Homo sapiens: one gene and its partners. The protein of the gene in region 1 purifies or fractionates together with the protein of each later gene. This does not show direct contact. Each region holds a gene or a part of one and is shown in the gene's direction. Other genes may lie near its edges. The genes, in order: DEFB123, CACNA2D2, COL6A2 and LRP1B.

Region 1 (4,627 bases):
CTTGGGGGCTGATAAGGGCAGGCTAGAGAATCCTTATCTGAAAACCCAATTACCTTGCCCTGTTTTGGTGTTGAAAACCTGGATTGCTGCATTCTTTTACTTTCTGTGTCTTTTATATAGAAAACCATATAATATGATGGATATATTGATCCCTACTGCACATCTGCCCCAAATCCTTAATTGAAGAGATTGAGACCCAGAAAAAAAAAAAAAGTAATTCTTCCAAGGTCACATAGAAAGCTAGTAGCAGTGTCAGGACTAGTTACCCAATATTTTCAACTCTGCTGTCACTCTCAATACAAAAATCCTCCATATATCCTGGCATTTCAGGCAGTGGGAAAATCTCTTCTTTTAGGGAGAAAAGAATCCAACAGATACATTATTTCTCCAGGCCTGGGCAACAGAGCAAGACCCTGTATCCAAAACAACAACAAAAACAAAAAGATAAAAAATAGTTTTTAAAATTAAGAAAAAAAAAGAAATGAAATGAGCCTCCTTACCAAAAATGAACAGCACAGGAAAGGTGGACTTCCAGGCTTTCCACTGAGTCCCTTCCTAGCCAGTGTCTCTTCTTCTCTTCATTGTAAGGGTTTTAGAAAGAATTATTTACACTTGCTGACCTCACTGTTTCACTTACCTTTCAGTTTTCAACCCCATTGACTGTTTTCTGCCCCTACAGAAATGGCTTTCACTGTTGTTGTTGTTGTTGTTGTTTTTCCCTTGTAATCCCTCTGTATGCTATTATACCCTTGACATCTGTTTCAAGCAGGGTCCAGTCAGAGAAACAGTAACTACAGGATGCAGCTACCACCCGAGGGCTGAGGGAACTAAAGGAAAGAGATGCCTTTTCTTTTCTTTTCTGAGACAGAGTCTTGCTCTGTCGCCCAGTCGGGAGTGCAGTGGCGCGATCTCGGCTCACCACAGCCTCCCCAGGTTCAAGCGATTATCTTGCCTCAGCCTCCCAAGTAGCTGGGATTATAGGCATGCACCACCACACCTGGCTACTTTTTGTATTTGTAGTAGAGATGGGGTTTCACCATGTTGGCCAGGCTGGTCTCGAACTCCTGACCTCAAGTGATCCACCCACCTTGGCCTCCCAAACTGCTGGGATTACAGGCGTGAGCCACCGTGCCCGGCCAAGAATGAGTTTTCAAAACCCGAGTTCAGAAGAAGGATTCTGAGTGGTTGGTTCTCAGATCTCTGAGGAAGCGGAAGGATGACCCTAGGGGGAGGGCCACCGCATGTTAGAACCCAGCAGGGGGCTGTGACAGACAGGCTGGTGCTCGGAGCTTCATCTCTTTCTGCCGTTTTCCTCTCAGTTTTTGCTCTGGTTATGTCATATTTCTCATTTTCAACACCAACATGAGCCTTTGTACAGACATTCCTCCACCTGGAACCCCATTTCAGCTCATCTACCTGTTGCTTTGTATTTATTCTTCAAAACTCTGCCGTCTTCCCTGACCTTCCGGAGCCGGTGTTTGTGGCGCCTCCTGCTGGTCACTGGGTTCAGGCAGTTTGGAGCTGGGTGGAAGGAACGGGTAGTATATTAAGTCTTGGGCCCTGGACCTTGTTGGCTGTCCTCTCCCTGCTGACCTAAATGACAAAGGGAGGGGTGTCCAGTCAGAGTGTGAGGGCTGTACCCGTGGGCAGCTGAGGGAGTGCGAGCCACAGGCCAGGCACTCTCCTTCTCCCATTAGCTCAGCCGTGGCATCGGACTTGCAGCTTCATTTTGGGCTGCCTTAGCCATGAAGCTCCTTTTGCTGACTTTGACTGTGCTGCTGCTCTTATCCCAGCTGACTCCAGGTAACCTGAACCTCCTTAAGGAAGGGGCAGGGCTTAGAGACTAAGGCCTGGTCAGAGAATCCCAAGGGCTAGAAGGATGGGCTGCAGGTTGTCATCTAGCACCACGTATAGGAGGCAGGAGGCGCCTCACCAGCAGCAGGTGCCAGCTGATAGATGACAACTACAACATCCAGAGCTGCTCTCTCAGCGGCTCCATCCCTCCTCTTCCTGCCCAGCTCCAGGGAGCATGTGGGGGTGGCCTAGTGTGTGAGGAGGAGTGGGAGGGGTGAGCAAGAGAAGCAGGAAAGAGGAGAGGCAGGTATGGCCCTTTTGCAAAATAGTCCCCAGAATGAACGAAGCTTTGTGAAGATCACAGCTACCTTAATGGGAGAGAAAGCTCATTTGTACTTAGCTGTCTCTGTGCCAGACTCTGCGCTGGAAGCTAGGACCACGGAGATAAATGACATGGTGCCAGGGGAACTAACTGGAGGAGACAGTTAAATAGCATTTATAACCCAGGGTGACACGGCTGTGGCAGTGGGAAACCAGGGGGCTGGGTACACATGGTCCAGCCCAGGCTGAGGGAAAGGAGAGTCCTCCTGGAGGGATATCCTGAGTCCTAAAAAGTGAGTCGAAAATAGAAAAGGAAGGAGAGGGGAAAGCAGAAGGGTGTCCCAGGCAGAGAGGTCAGCCTATGCAAAGGTTGGATGCGGGAGAGAGCATGGGAGTGTCGGGGACCTGCATAACATGGAGGGGTGGGTTAGGAGAGAGGCGGGGGTAAAGCTGAGGAAGCATTCAAGCTCCAGGTCTCAGTGGGCCTCAAATGCCAGGTGAGGGACCCATGGGAAGGTTTAAACAGAGAAAGACCCTGGTCAGACCTACCACCCACCAATTCCAGCATGAGCCACCTATCCCTTCCTGCTCATCTGGCAGAAGTTTCCACCCACCCTAAGGCTGTCGGCTAACCTTTCTACAGAGTCAGAAACGTGTGAATTTCCTAAACAAGCTGACCTCCGTCCTTGTGTCTTCCTGAGGCCCTAAAACACCACTCACCTGGAGTAGGGAGGAAAGCCCAGACCCCGGGTTAAAACCTGCCCCATCATTTTCTGACTCTGTGAGCCCCAACAAGAAGCTCAGCTGCTCAGAGTATCAATTTCCTCATTTCTCAAACTGCAATAACATCAAGTGTGTAATAATATCAGGTTGAGGGAACAACATTGAACACACTGAAATTTTGGTCTGCAAAAGAAATATGGCTTCTCTATTTTCTCTAACTCACCAAACTTTCCCAGGAACTTCCATCCTGACTGTGGGAGTTAGTGGTGGGAGGAGCAGGACTACAGAGATAAATGACATGGCACCAGGGGAGCAAACTAGGGGAGACAGTTAAATAGCACTTACAACCCAGGGTGACAAGGCACATAGGGGCTGGGCCTGAACTCAGCAGTTCAATATTTGTCTTTTCTGTTTTAAAATGATTTCTAAGCTAATTCAATCTCTTTTGAATAAGTGTTGAGTCTTTCAGCATGTCTCTTTCTTCCATCACCCTTTCTCTTTCCTGGGATAGTATCTGGTTACAGGGAAAAGTAACTTGATATGTCATCAAATAATTAATTGCTTCATTCAGTAAATACAGTTGAATGGATTTCTTGTTCCAAGCACTGTGATGGGTGCTAGAGGTAGAACTGGGAACAAAACAAGATAAGCAAAATCTCTGTCCTCTTGGAGCTTACCTTCTACTGGAGGACCCAAAGAATTTGAAAAATAAATGAAACATATGGTATGTCAGATAATGAGTACAGTGAGCAGAATAGGCAGGAAAGGAAATAGTGAACACCAGGGGAAGGGGAAGGTCATTTGCTTTTTTTTTTTTTTTTTTTTTGGAGACAGGGTCTTGCTCTGTCACCCAGGCTGGAGTGCTGGAGTGTAGAGGCACGATCTTAGCTCACTGCAACCTCCACCTCCCGGATTCAAGCAGTTTTCATGCCTCAGCCTCCTAAGTAACTGGGATTACAGGCGCCTGCAACCACGCCTGGCAAATTTTTGTATTTTTAGTAGGATACGGTTTGGCCATGTTGCCCAGGCTGGTCTTGAATCCCTGACCTCAAGCAATCTGCTTGCCTCAGCCTCCCAAAGTGCTGGGATTACAGGCTTGAGCCACCATGCCCGGTCTTTGCCATTTTTAAGGGGTTGTTCATGGAATGTCTCACTGTGACCTGAGGGAACAACCGGTGTGAGCATGTGGCTATGGAGGGAAGGAAATTCAAGCTGGGGAAAACAGCAAGTGCAAGGGTCCTGGGATAGGAACATAAGGAGGTGGGGTCAGGTCCTGTGCTGGACCCTTACTGACTTCTGGGATCACGACCCTCGTTGGATGTGGTTAGTAGCGTCCTGCTAGCACTTACTACTGGATTTCATGACTGATGAAATCTCTCAGCCCTTTTGGGGTCCCCACTGACTCGACCCTTCATCTCAGCCAGATCTTCCATCTGGTCCCCAAGTTAAGGCTGTTCACACCCTCCCTTACTGCCTTCTGCACTAGGGGTGTACTCTTGGCAGGTCCCTCACTGGTTTTCCTATCTCAGCCAGAGACAAGGGAACCTGGGGACCTTCTGGGTCTATTTTATTCAACAGAGAGCTGACAGTGATGCTCAGCCACTTCCCTTAGCCATTTCTAATCCCCCTTCAGGTAGCACCATGCAGTGCTATATCCATGCTAAAGATAAGAATTTCTCTGAAGAGCTACCAGTTTCCCTGAGCTATGCTCTAAGAGGCAGAGAGTAAGTGTCTTCTGCGTTGGCAATTTCTTTCGACCAATCTGGGTATTCATAGCAAGAGACTCTCT
Region 2 (3,245 bases), on another chromosome or scaffold:
CTGTGGGGGCAGAAGGCTAGGATGGGCCCAGAGGCCCTGGACCTGCCCAGCAGAAGGCAGGCCTGTGACCCCACCCCCCTGCTACCCCCAGGTACAGCCTACTGGCCGTGTTCGCTGCCACAGACGGTGGCATCACCCGAGTCTTCCCCAACAAGTAAGTGACCTATCCCACTACCCAAACCCTGCCCCTGCCAGGGAACCTGCATCTGTTCTGCCCAGAGGCCTCCTTGCATCTGTGGAGACCACTGTCCCCGACAAGCCACCCCTTACCTACCAGTCTGCCTCTTGGGTGCTCCAGGGCAGCTGAGGACTGGACAGAGAACCCTGAGCCCTTCAATGCCAGCTTCTACCGCCGCAGCCTGGATAACCACGGTTATGTCTTCAAGCCCCCACACCAGGATGGTGAGTGTCCCCGCAGTGTGCCCAGCAGCAGGCAGGGAGCCTCAGCTTCCCTGTCTGCTCAGCCAGAACTGGGCTCTGCTGTCTGAGGCCCCTCTCCAACACAAGGCTGGCTGAGGCCAGGGCAGACGTGAAAAGAGGGATAGACTGTGCCAAACACTGTCCTGAGTGCTGGGTGCTTGGGCTGGAGTCATCCCGGGATTGGACTGCTGGGTTTGTAGGACCCAGCATAGAGTGGTCAGTGTGGCCGCCAGACCCCACTCCTGACTTCCCCACCCAACCCCCAGCCCTGTTAAGGCCGCTGGAGCTGGAGAATGACACTGTGGGCATCCTCGTCAGCACAGCTGTGGAGCTCAGCCTAGGCAGGCGCACACTGAGGCCAGCAGGTGAATGTTTGGGACAGAGGTGGGGAAACAGGCAATGGACAGGGTACTGCCTGGGCAGGTAGCACTGATGGTCCCTTGCTCTCCCCCAAAGTGGTGGGCGTCAAGCTGGACCTAGAGGCTTGGGCTGAGAAGTTCAAGGTGCTAGCCAGCAACCGTACCCACCAAGACCAGCCTCAGAAGGTATTTGGGCAGGGGCGGGGGCAGTAACCCAGCAGTGCCCTTCCTGGAGTCCCCTGGAACCCCCACCAACCCTCCACTCAGTGGCTCCAACACCTACATGGAGGCAGGGCCAGCTGCAGATGGCCTGGGGAACCGGATGTATGAAAGGTGATGGGAGGGAGGAAAACTGGTGGGTGGCTTACGGTCCTCACTCTCTGCCCAGCAGTGCGGCCCCAACAGCCACTGTGAGATGGACTGCGAGGTTAACAATGAGGTGTGTGTGCCCTGAACCTACCCTGGACCCTAGCTTACCCCACTTCCAGACTTCCTAGTCCCAGCCGCGACTCCCAGCACATCCCTTGGCCTGTGGGTCTCAACATCCCCACCCTGACTTCACAGCCTTCCCAGGACTGGGGGAGTGATGCCCCCCAACTCTGAACCACTGGACTGCCTGCGGTGGAAGGTCCGGGGCCCAGCCCCTCTCCATTTTCCTCCCCATTCCCTTCCTCCTAGGACTTACTCTGTGTCCTCATTGATGATGGAGGATTCCTGGTGCTGTCAAACCAGAACCATCAGTGGGACCAGGTGAGGATCAGGAAGAGAGTGAAAGAAGAGAGTAGGGATTTGAGCCTTCTAGGGGTGTAGCACTGCCAGCCCTGTGACCATGGCTTTCTCCTGACATCCTCAGGTGGGCAGGTTCTTCAGTGAGGTGGATGCCAACCTGATGCTGGCACTCTACAATAACTCCTTCTACACCCGCAAGGAGTCCTATGACTATCAGGCAGCCTGTGCCCCTCAGCCCCCTGGCAACCTGGGTGCTGCACCCCGGGGTGTCTTTGTGGTGAGTCCCCAGAGATGCCTGGACTGGAGATGGGGGGGACTGGGAGACCTGCCCACAGATGACCCCCTACCTCTGACATTTGATAAAGCTGGGGGTGACCTAGGGCGAGGGGCAGCAGTGGCAGTCCACGCCCCTCTCTCCACTGCAGCCCACCGTTGCAGATTTCCTTAACCTGGCCTGGTGGACCTCTGCTGCCGCCTGGTGAGTCCTGAGCGGGAGGTGGGTAGAGAAGGTGCTCCCTGGCCGGGAGGGCTCAGAAGAGAAGTAGGGCATGGCATCGTCCTCTGCTGACCACCTGCACTCGGCTCCCCGTGCGCTGCAGGTCCCTGTTCCAGCAGCTTCTCTACGGCCTCATCTACCACAGCTGGTTCCAAGCAGGTAGGTAGGGCTTTGGAGGCGCCTCCTCAAGTCCGGGTCCCCAATCTGAGCTAAGACGACTCCATGGGGAGGGTGGGGTCTACGACTGAGGGAGGCCGGAGACCTTGCCAGGGTCTGTGGGCGGAGCTGAGGCGCTCTGGGCCCTCGCAGACCCCGCGGAGGCCGAGGGGAGCCCCGAGACGCGCGAGAGCAGCTGCGTCATGAAACAGACCCAGTACTACTTCGGCTCGGTAAACGCCTCCTACAACGCCATCATCGACTGCGGAAACTGCTCCAGGTGCTGGCAGTGGGGCGGGACCAGAGGCCAAGGGCGGAACCTGTGAGCGGGGCGAGACGCTCGGGAGGATGGAAGGGGCGGGGCCTCCGAGCGGCCGGGGGCGGGGCCGCAGGATGGGGGTGGGTCAGGGCGGGGCAAACTCAACGCCCCGCCTTTCCGGGCTGCCCGCAGGCTGTTCCACGCGCAGAGACTGACCAACACCAATCTTCTCTTTGTGGTGGCCGAGAAGCCGCTGTGCAGCCAGTGCGAGGCTGGCCGGCTGCTGCAGAAGGAGACGCACTGTATCCTGCCCCCGCCCTCCCCGCCGCCCGCTCCCCCTCTGCCCCGCGCGCCCCCTCCGTGCCGCCGCCGCCGTCCGCCTCCTTGACTCCCCACCCATGCCCAGCGGACGGCCCGGAGCAGTGTGAGCTAGTGCAGAGACCGCGATACCGGAGAGGCCCGCACATCTGCTTCGACTACAACGCGACAGTGAGGAGAGGGGGCGGTGGACCCGAAATCCCGCGGCCTTGCGCCCGCCCAGGCCGACCAGCTCCTTGTCTCTCCCCGCAGGAAGATACCTCAGACTGTGGCCGCGGGGCCTCCTTCCCGCCGTCGCTGGGCGTCCTGGTCTCCCTGCAACTGCTGCTCCTCCTGGGCCTGCCGCCCCGGCCGCAGCCTCAAGTCCTCGTCCACGCCTCTCGCCGCCTCTGAGCACCCTGCCCCACCCCACCTCCACTCCCACCTCACCCGGCCTCTTCGCCTTTCCCACCCTCCTGCCCCACACTCCCCGCCTTAGAGCCTCGTCCCTCCCTCACTGAAGGACCTG
Region 3 (4,721 bases), on another chromosome or scaffold:
GCTGCATAGGGGCCACAGCGTAACCTGAGCTCCAGTCGGTGGAAAGAAAAGGCAGAGACGTTGCAGAGGCCAGGTCTGCTCAGGGGAAGACAGTTCTGGGTGTAGAGGACTCACATCCCAGAGAGGCTGAGGAAGGGTTTACCACCGCAAGCTTTCTCAGGCGGGCTCTTGAGGGGTGGCTGGGGTCTTCCTGGCGACGGGCCTGCGGCACTGGAAGCCCTACTGGAGTTTGGCCTGTCTCCGGCACAGGTTTGGACGGAGCTGTTTTGTGCTGAAAGGTTTTCTCGGGGTCCGTGGTGTCCCCCAAAGGTGCCACCGTGCGGGTCTCCTAGCTCCCTGCCAGCTTCCTGTCCCTGTGCTCACTGCCCCCACGCCTCCTGCCAAGGCCGAGCCACACACCCGCTCCACCTGCATTTCCTCTACCGACTCGCCAGCCCAAATGCCGCTCTTCACTCTGGCCTCGCTGAGCGGCTGCCCGAGGAGGAGCTCTAGGCCGACGCCCACCGCAGGCCTTACAGTCTTCTCTGGACGCTCCCTTGCAGATGCACCGTGGCCTGGCGGCGAGCCCCCGGTCACCTTCCTCCGCACGGAAGAGGGGCCGGACGCCACCTTCCCCAGGACCATTCCCCTGATCCAACAGTTGCTAAACGCCACGGAGCTCACGCAGGACCCGGCCGCCTACTCCCAGCTGGTGGCCGTGCTGGTCTACACCGCCGAGCGGGCCAAGTTCGCCACCGGGGTAGAGCGGCAGGACTGGATGGAGCTGTTCATTGACACCTTTAAGCTGGTGCACAGGGACATCGTGGGGGACCCCGAGACCGCGCTGGCCCTCTGCTAAAGCCCGGGCACCCGCCCAGCCGGGCTGGGCCCTCCCTGCCACACTAGCTTCCCAGGGCTGCCCCCGACAGGCTGGCTCTCAGTGGAGGCCAGAGATCTGGAATCGGGGTCAGCGGGGCTACAGTCCTTCCAGGGGCTCTGGGGCAGCTCCCAGCCTCTTCCCATGCTGGTGGCCACCGTGTCCCTTGCTGCGGCTGCATCTTCCAGTCTCTCCTCCGTCTTCCTGTGGCCGCTCTCTTTATAAGAACCCTGGTCATTGAATTTAAGGCCCACCCCAAGTCCAGAATGACCTCGCAAGACCCTTAACTCACTCCCGTCTGCAGAGTCCTTCTTTGCTGCATCAGGTCACCCTCACAGGCTCCAGGGTTTGGGTGTGGAAGTCTTTGGAGGCCCTTACTTAGCGGCCCAGCTGGGCTGCCGTGCGTCTGGGATGGGGCTGAGGGAGGGTGCTGCCCAGGTGCTGGAGGATGTTCCAGCACCAGGTTCCAGCGGAGCCTCGGAAACAGGCCCCAGAGGCTGGTGAGCCTCGCTGGGTGTGGGCACTAATCCCGTGCATGGTGACTCGTGGGCGCTCACGGCCCACCTGGTGGCAGGTGAAGGCTTCCGGTTGGGCAGCAGATAGTCCTGGGGGAAGCTGGCAGTCCTGGCACCATGACGTATCTGGGCTGGTGTCATGCACAGTAGGGCGAATGGCCACAGCTGCCTGCCAGCAGCCCTGATCCCGGGGTGTCTGCACCCTTCCAGCCCAACCTCTGGGTCTCCAAAAGCACAGTCGGGGGAGCATCCACCAGGCACAACCTCTGCGGTCCTCAGAGGACTGAGCAGAGAATCCCAGGGTCCACAATGTTGGGGAGCGGCAGGGATCACCATCCAAAGGGAGCGGCCCCCACGGCGAGCTGACCCCGACGTTCTGACTGCAGGAGCCCTCATCCAGGCTGGGCTCCTGCCGGGCACGGCTGTGACCATTTCTCAGGGCCAGGTTCTCGTCCCCACACCCACTGCACAGGGCAGGCCAGGCTGGTCTTCCCACTGTGGGGATGAAGGATCCTCCACAGGAGGAGGAGAGCAGAGTCCACAGACATCCCAACAGCCTCAGCCTCCCTGTGCCTGGCCGGCCCCCACAGCTTCCCCGTCTCCTCCAGGCCCCACAGACACTGATGAATGGACAGAGACCCCCAAAACCAGCTGCCCCTTGCATGTCTGTCTCCATATGTTTGGTGACAGCAGTGAAAATGTTATTAGTTTTGAGGGGGTTTGGGAAGCCCAGCGGTACCTGAGGAGTTTCTGGACATTTAAGCCGGTTCCTAGGTGTGGCCTTAACAGGGAGGCTGCCCTTCCTTTCACTGAATGAGCTGCGTCACTCATAAGCTCACTGAGGGAACCCCATCTGCCAGCTCGTGCGTGCTCAGACGGCGTCCATGTCTCAAGCGTTCTGTGAAGGCTGCGGTGCAGCGTGAGGTCACCCTGCTGTGTTCAGAGCTTTGCTCACTGCCTGCGGGGCTGGACCGTTGCACCTCCAGGGCCCCCAGAAACCGAGTTTCGGGTCAGGGTCCTCTGTGTGCATTCCTGGGGGTCCATGTACCAGCTGTGACGACGTCCAGGGGTTGGGCTGAGAAGCAGACACCCTTGGGGAAACTGGCTCTGTCCCTCCCCTCCCCCATCCCAGGAGCTGAGGTCTTGGTGAGGCCACAGGGCCAGGTCCACGCAAGGACTGTCCGTGTCCTGTCCTGTGGTCTCTGGCCCCACGTGACACCCACACGTGTGGTAGGCAGCCTGGCCTGGGTTGTGGCTATGGCCAGGCCCCCAAGCTGTCCCCGATGCCCAGGGCTGGTGACCACCCAGGCAGGTGGGGGCCCCACTTGGTAACAGAGTCATAGGGCAGAACCCACCTGGGCTGCCACAGAAGGTCTGGCTGCCCCTGTGCCCACTGCTCCCCACCATGGCCAATCAGAAGAGTCAGGGGCTCCTGGTCTTTCCGGGAGGGACGTGGCCCAGCCAGCTCTAGGTGTTCTGAGCAGCTCTGGGACCCAGCGATTGAGGGGTCAGGCTGGGGGTGTCAGAGCCAGGGTCCTCCTTAAGTACCTCCCACACTACACAGACAGTGGCCCTTTTGTGGGCAGCAAATTCTTGAGCCATGAAAGGATGCTTTGGGCCCCTTCCCTCCCAGGAGGGCAGCCTGTGCAGGGATGGTGCTCAGCAGGTGGACAGGGCCTGGGGCCTGTGTCAGGGTCTCAGGCCTGGGAGCACCAGCAGAGGAGATGGCGGCTCCCAGCAGTGCCGCCTGAAAGTGTCTTGGGCTAAGGACCCACACCCAGGGCTGCCCTGCAGAAACGCCCCCGCAGAGCCCAGTGGTCTGTGAGGTTGCAGGCAGGGTGCGAATGGAAGGGCACAGGTGCGGGGCTGGCACCTGCCCGGTCCTGCCCACCTCCCCTCCGCCCAGCCCGCACCTGCGTCTCCCCACAGAGCTGTCCGTGGCACAGTGCACGCAGCGGCCCGTGGACATCGTCTTCCTGCTGGACGGCTCCGAGCGGCTGGGTGAGCAGAACTTCCACAAGGCCCGGCGCTTCGTGGAGCAGGTGGCGCGGCGGCTGACGCTGGCCCGGAGGGACGACGACCCTCTCAACGCACGCGTGGCGCTGCTGCAGTTTGGTGGCCCCGGCGAGCAGCAGGTGGCCTTCCCGCTGAGCCACAACCTCACGGCCATCCACGAGGCGCTGGAGACCACACAATACCTGAACTCCTTCTCGCACGTGGGCGCAGGCGTGGTGCACGCCATCAATGCCATCGTGCGCAGCCCGCGTGGCGGGGCCCGGAGGCACGCAGAGCTGTCCTTCGTGTTCCTCACGGACGGCGTCACGGGCAACGACAGTCTGCACGAGTCGGCGCACTCCATGCGCAAGCAGAACGTGGTACCCACCGTGCTGGCCTTGGGCAGCGACGTGGACATGGACGTGCTCACCACGCTCAGCCTGGGTGACCGCGCCGCCGTGTTCCACGAGAAGGACTATGACAGCCTGGCGCAACCCGGCTTCTTCGACCGCTTCATCCGCTGGATCTGCTAGCGCCGCCGCCCGGGCCCCGCAGTCGAGGGTCGTGAGCCCACCCCGTCCATGGTGCTAAGCGGGCCCGGGTCCCACACGGCCAGCACCGCTGCTCACTCGGACGACGCCCTGGGCCTGCACCTCTCCAGCTCCTCCCACGGGGTCCCCGTAGCCCCGGCCCCCGCCCAGCCCCAGGTCTCCCCAGGCCCTCCGCAGGCTGCCCGGCCTCCCTCCCCCTGCAGCCATCCCAAGGCTCCTGACCTACCTGGCCCCTGAGCTCTGGAGCAAGCCCTGACCCAATAAAGGCTTTGAACCCATTGCGTGCCTGCTTGCGAGCTTCTGTGCGCAGGAGAGACCTCAAAGGTGTCTTGTGGCCAGGAGGGAAACACTGCAGCTGTCGCTCGCCCACCAGGGTCAATGGCTCCCCCGGGCCCAGCCCTGACCTCCTAGGACATCAACTGCAGGTGCTGGCTGACCCCGCCTGTGCAGACCCCACAGCCTTGATCAGCAAACTCTCCCTCCAGCCCCAGCCAGGCCCAAAGTGCTCTAAGAAGTGTCACCATGGCTGAGGGTCTTCTGTGGGTGGACGCATGATTAACACTAGACGGGGAGACAGCAGGTGCTGAGCCTGTTGTGTTCTGTGTGGAGATCTCAGTGAGTTTTTGCTGTTCAGACCCCAGGGTCCTTCAGGCTCAGCTCAGGAGCCCCACAGTGAACCAGAGGCTCCACAGGCAGGTGCTGACCTGACAGGAGTGGGCTTGGTGGCCATCACAGGGCACCACAGACACAGCTTGAACAACTACCAGTATCGGCCACAGGCCTGGAGGCATCAGCCGGGCCATG
Region 4 (3,984 bases), on another chromosome or scaffold:
AAATGTATGATCCTAAATTCAGTTTGCTTACAAAAGTCACACAATATTTCCTACTTTTACATCTTTTTTTTTTAATTTATGCATCTAAAACTTTCCTCATTTAGGGATGAAGCAATACCCACCAGGATATGGCTGCATGTGTCTAAACCATGGTATCATTCCACTGACCTATTTTAACTAATTGCAAAATATTCAAGTCAGTGGGGTTACAACGATAATAATTAAAGTTCTCACATTTCTCAAAAATTTGATTTAAGTAACTTAGAGATGATATGATGTCTCTATAATAATGTCCCTCTCATTTATTTAAAAGAGAAGGCCTTCTAAAATGTTTTCCTGAATGGGAGATAAAGTAATAAAATTGCAACTGCTATCCTGGAAATTACAAGTAACTTTTTGTCTGTCCTAAAATGTTGCAGCTTATGACCAACCATTATGAGCACATTACACACTCAAATGTTACTCTTCATATGTATGTCCAGCATAAAAAAATGAAATTTAAACTGCTGATTTAGACAACTTGCTTGAGTAACTTAGCAGTACCCTTGATTGAGTTTACAAATATTAAGCTTAGGTTAGCAATAAATGCCTAAATTTCTAGGTAGCTTATAGGAAATGCTTTGGCTCTCAGAGAAGGATGTAGTACTCATATATCGTACTATAATAAAGATAGCCTGTCATTAGAATCATTGACTCCTGACTTATTTTTAAAAAGTGTTACAGCTTAACAGCAGCTCTAAATATCAACTGTTAGCAGCTTGGTCTAATCTGTATTTAATGTTAATGAGTTTAGTTTTTATACTTCTATACATTTATAAGACATGGGGGCTTATATGGAGAGAAGACCGTAACCTTGTACATTCAAAAAGAGTTATCTGTGGAATAATAAATACCATTTCAAACATTTTTTAAAAGTTAACTCCCCACTTCAGGAATTAGAATTATATTAGTTTTGATCATATTTTTAAATCCCAGCTCCTACTGAATATACCTGTGAAGATAATGTGAATCCATGTGGAGATGATGCATATTGTAATCAAATAAAAACATCTGTTTTCTGTCGCTGTAAGCCTGGATTTCAGAGAAACATGAAAAACAGACAATGTGAAGGTAGAGTACTTTTCTTCAACAGTTTGCTCATAAATCTTTGGGTTATGAAGATTCCCAAGACTTCTAAATTGTGAGATCACAGGGGATTGACTTTCATCAAAATGGTGTGTATCTACGGGATACCATTTCACTTATGAGAATGAAAGTCTCTGGGGTCAAGAGCTTGTTTGTGGAGCTAAGCTAACCACGACAGAGGCTACAAAGCTTTTTCTATAGCAAATTCAGAGCTGCAGGAATTTCAATTCTATTGCTACAATACTGTTTTGAAATGCAAATAACGAAATTCCTGGTTCAGGAACTATTGGAGAATTAGTCTTGCTTCATGAAAAAATATGTTTATGATGACCCATTTCTCTTGAGTGTGGAATTTGCAATACTGGAATAGGTAAATCACATTTAGAGAGTCATGGGCTTTTGTCCTAAAACCATGTTTTAAATAGATCATAATGTATCTTTAAAAATTCAAAGTCAGGATCTACATAAATCTGTCAACTTACTTGAGATCATTTAAAAATTGAGCATGTAGGATAGCCAAAATCTTATAGTAAGTAAGTAAATATAATTACATCAGTGTTCTAACTATAGAACCATGAAATACAGACCCATATGCACTTTCTGCAAGTTTCTCCAATAAAACTGCTATTTGTATTCATATTCATATTAATGTAAGTACAGCCAAACCTAAAATAACTAAGTCTGGCTTATCCAGGCTAAATTCAAGTCTTTAAGTGCTTTTACCTACCAGCTTGCTTTTGTTATGTCTCTTTGTGATATTTTGAGGTTAAGAAAAATGATTCTACTTCGTGTTAATCAAAATGGAATTATTTAAATGAATTGATTCTACTCACCCAAAAGGGGAAAAAGTGTAGTCACGTCATGTTTATCTACATTTTGAGTTAAATGTGTATTTGGATTATTCGTGACATTTGATTGTTCCATTACTATGAGACTGAAAGATGACAACCTAGGTTTTCTGTGTTTTAGTTAAAAAATGAATTATCTTTCAAACTATGGTATTTATTTTTCCCAGGCTCTTTCTATCAATTACATATAAACACACACACACACAATTCTTTCAATATTTTAATTTCAATAACATTTATTTTCTAATATTTGTCAGTGGGTTTTTTCTGTATATATGTACTAAATTTAGAAATTATATTATTAAAGTTTTCTTAATTTTTAATTACATTCCACAGCAAATATAACCTGCACACTACATTCTTTATTTTAAATTGCTATGAATCCACTTTTTTGTATTATTTTGTAGGACAGACGAGTAACTTCTGAACTCTAATAAAATGTTCATCTATTTTTAATAAATAAAGTTTTGATTTTAAGGAAAATAGTTCTATTTCAGTGTCAAAGAAGGGTAAGACATAATTGGATTCTATAATCCAAAAATTTAAATTTGTTTGTGCCCTTCACTTATGTATCTGAAAAAATGCATAAGAAATTGCTATTTGATGTTAAAGCCCAAACACTTCAATTAGAATATCTAAAGGGAAAAAAGTAAAGAGGAATGGTGGAAGAAAATTAGAAGGGGATTAACAGTTGCTGAGTGCCAGGTACTGTTTTGGGTACTAGGCATGTGTGGAATTCCTCCATCCCCTTCAAAAGCTCATGATCCAGGCTTTCTAGAGATGAGGCGAAAATGATGGTTCAGGCCAGTATAATGACAAGTGAGGAAGTTGAGGTTGTATGAAATCATGCAGAATACTGCTTATTTGGATTCTGTACCAAAGGGAAACCATAGTGACAAATAACTGCCGGTTCAAAGTTACAGGGGCTGAACAAATCAGAAATATTTGTTGTAATCGTGATGGTTAAGTACTGACAAGATGCATTCTACTTCATTCCTGTAAAATATTTATTAAAAACAACGAAATACACTTTTCTGCATCTCTTTACTCTACATTTCAATCAAATAGCAATGTGTGGTCATGAAAATGCTTATGTGTTCTTAGGCAAAGTATCACAGTAAAGTCAACAAAATCAGAAAACCTGAGTTTAAGCCTTGACGTTGTGATTTACAAGTGTCTCTACCTCTGAGCCCTTAGAACATTGTTTGTGTGCTACGCAAAAGATAGTTATTCTTACTGTGCTGATTCTTAAGTTCTCTAATTCAAGGGAAGGATTTATCTCACAGATTTATTAGGTAATTAGGAGATTATAAGTGATAAAATGAGGCAGGGGAAATATGCTGGCTAAACACAAAAGTAGAGGAGGAAAAGAGAGGAAAATTAGATAATTCCCTAGAATCACCTGGCCTCAATCCTGGCTCTTCATAAGCCCTTAAAATTAGAGTCATGTGCCAAGCTACATGACTCTGATTAAATCACATGAATACTGCCTGTGATTTATTTATTTATGCTAGTGATTTAGAGGTATTTATTCATATATAGGCATGCAGATTTTGCTTGCTTAATTCACATCACATAACCTCAATACAGCCCTTCTTGTTACGTAGTCACTTCATATATATGAGTCCAGAAGTGTGTTAGAGATGTGCCCAAATCTTTGTTCTCTGCCAGTCATTGTGCAAAATCTGGCAATAAAAAAGGAATGTATCATAATTTATGTCCTCAAGGGAATATGAATATGTAACCACATTCCTGAAATATAAGCAACAGTGTAAGAGAGAAACACCAGGAGAGCAAAAACTGGAGAAACTAAGGATGAATCATCACTCCCATATATGGTTGGAGACCAAGGAAGGCTTTATTTCAGGTGGATCTTGAAAGATGAGTAGAAATTCTGTATGGAAAAGTGGGCAAGGGCATTACGGGATGAAAGAATAGCCCATGATACCTTCGAAGGCATGGAGGTAGGTCATCAGAAACAGCTTAAAAGAAAACCTCAAGACAGGTCTAT

Evidence for each region.
Region 2: the proteins of DEFB123 (region 1) and CACNA2D2 purify together in Homo sapiens (affinity purification with mass spectrometry; one large-scale study listed by BioGRID and IntAct). This does not show direct contact.
Region 3: the proteins of DEFB123 (region 1) and COL6A2 purify together in Homo sapiens (affinity purification with mass spectrometry; one large-scale study listed by BioGRID and IntAct). This does not show direct contact.
Region 4: the proteins of DEFB123 (region 1) and LRP1B purify together in Homo sapiens (affinity purification with mass spectrometry; one large-scale study listed by BioGRID and IntAct). This does not show direct contact.

The regions. Positions count from the first base shown.
Region 1 is NC_000020.11:31,438,954-31,443,580, forward strand, and holds the start of DEFB123 (beta-defensin 123 precursor), read left to right. Parts: upstream 1-1,678; 5' UTR 1,679-1,745; coding exon 1,746-1,803; intron 1,804-4,627. UniProt on the Homo sapiens protein: Has antibacterial activity.
Region 2 is NC_000003.12:50,364,551-50,367,795, reverse strand, and holds part of CACNA2D2 (voltage-dependent calcium channel subunit alpha-2/delta-2 isoform b precursor), read left to right. Parts: intron 1-91; coding exon 92-154; intron 155-274; exon of another isoform or gene 275-298; coding exon 299-402; intron 403-686; coding exon 687-785; intron 786-876; coding exon 877-965; intron 966-1,167; coding exon of another isoform or gene 1,168-1,170; coding exon 1,171-1,218; intron 1,219-1,457; coding exon 1,458-1,529; exon of another isoform or gene 1,530-1,632; coding exon 1,633-1,785; exon of another isoform or gene 1,786-1,933; coding exon 1,934-1,986; exon of another isoform or gene 1,987-2,107; coding exon 2,108-2,163; exon of another isoform or gene 2,164-2,313; coding exon 2,314-2,440; intron 2,441-2,611; coding exon 2,612-2,721; intron 2,722-2,819; coding exon of another isoform or gene 2,820-2,825; coding exon 2,826-2,908; intron 2,909-2,989; coding exon 2,990-3,130; 3' UTR 3,131-3,245. UniProt on the Homo sapiens protein: The alpha-2/delta subunit of voltage-dependent calcium channels regulates calcium current density and activation/inactivation kinetics of the calcium channel.
Region 3 is NC_000021.9:46,128,654-46,133,374, forward strand, and holds the end of COL6A2 (collagen alpha-2(VI) chain isoform 2C2 precursor), read left to right. Parts: intron 1-249; coding exon of another isoform or gene 250-275; exon of another isoform or gene 276-542; coding exon of another isoform or gene 543-838; exon of another isoform or gene 839-1,148; intron 1,149-3,300; coding exon 3,301-3,899; 3' UTR 3,900-4,195; downstream 4,196-4,721. UniProt on the Homo sapiens protein: Collagen VI acts as a cell-binding protein.
Region 4 is NC_000002.12:140,353,468-140,357,451, reverse strand, and holds part of LRP1B (low-density lipoprotein receptor-related protein 1B precursor), read left to right. Parts: intron 1-975; coding exon 976-1,110; intron 1,111-3,984. UniProt on the Homo sapiens protein: Potential cell surface proteins that bind and internalize ligands in the process of receptor-mediated endocytosis.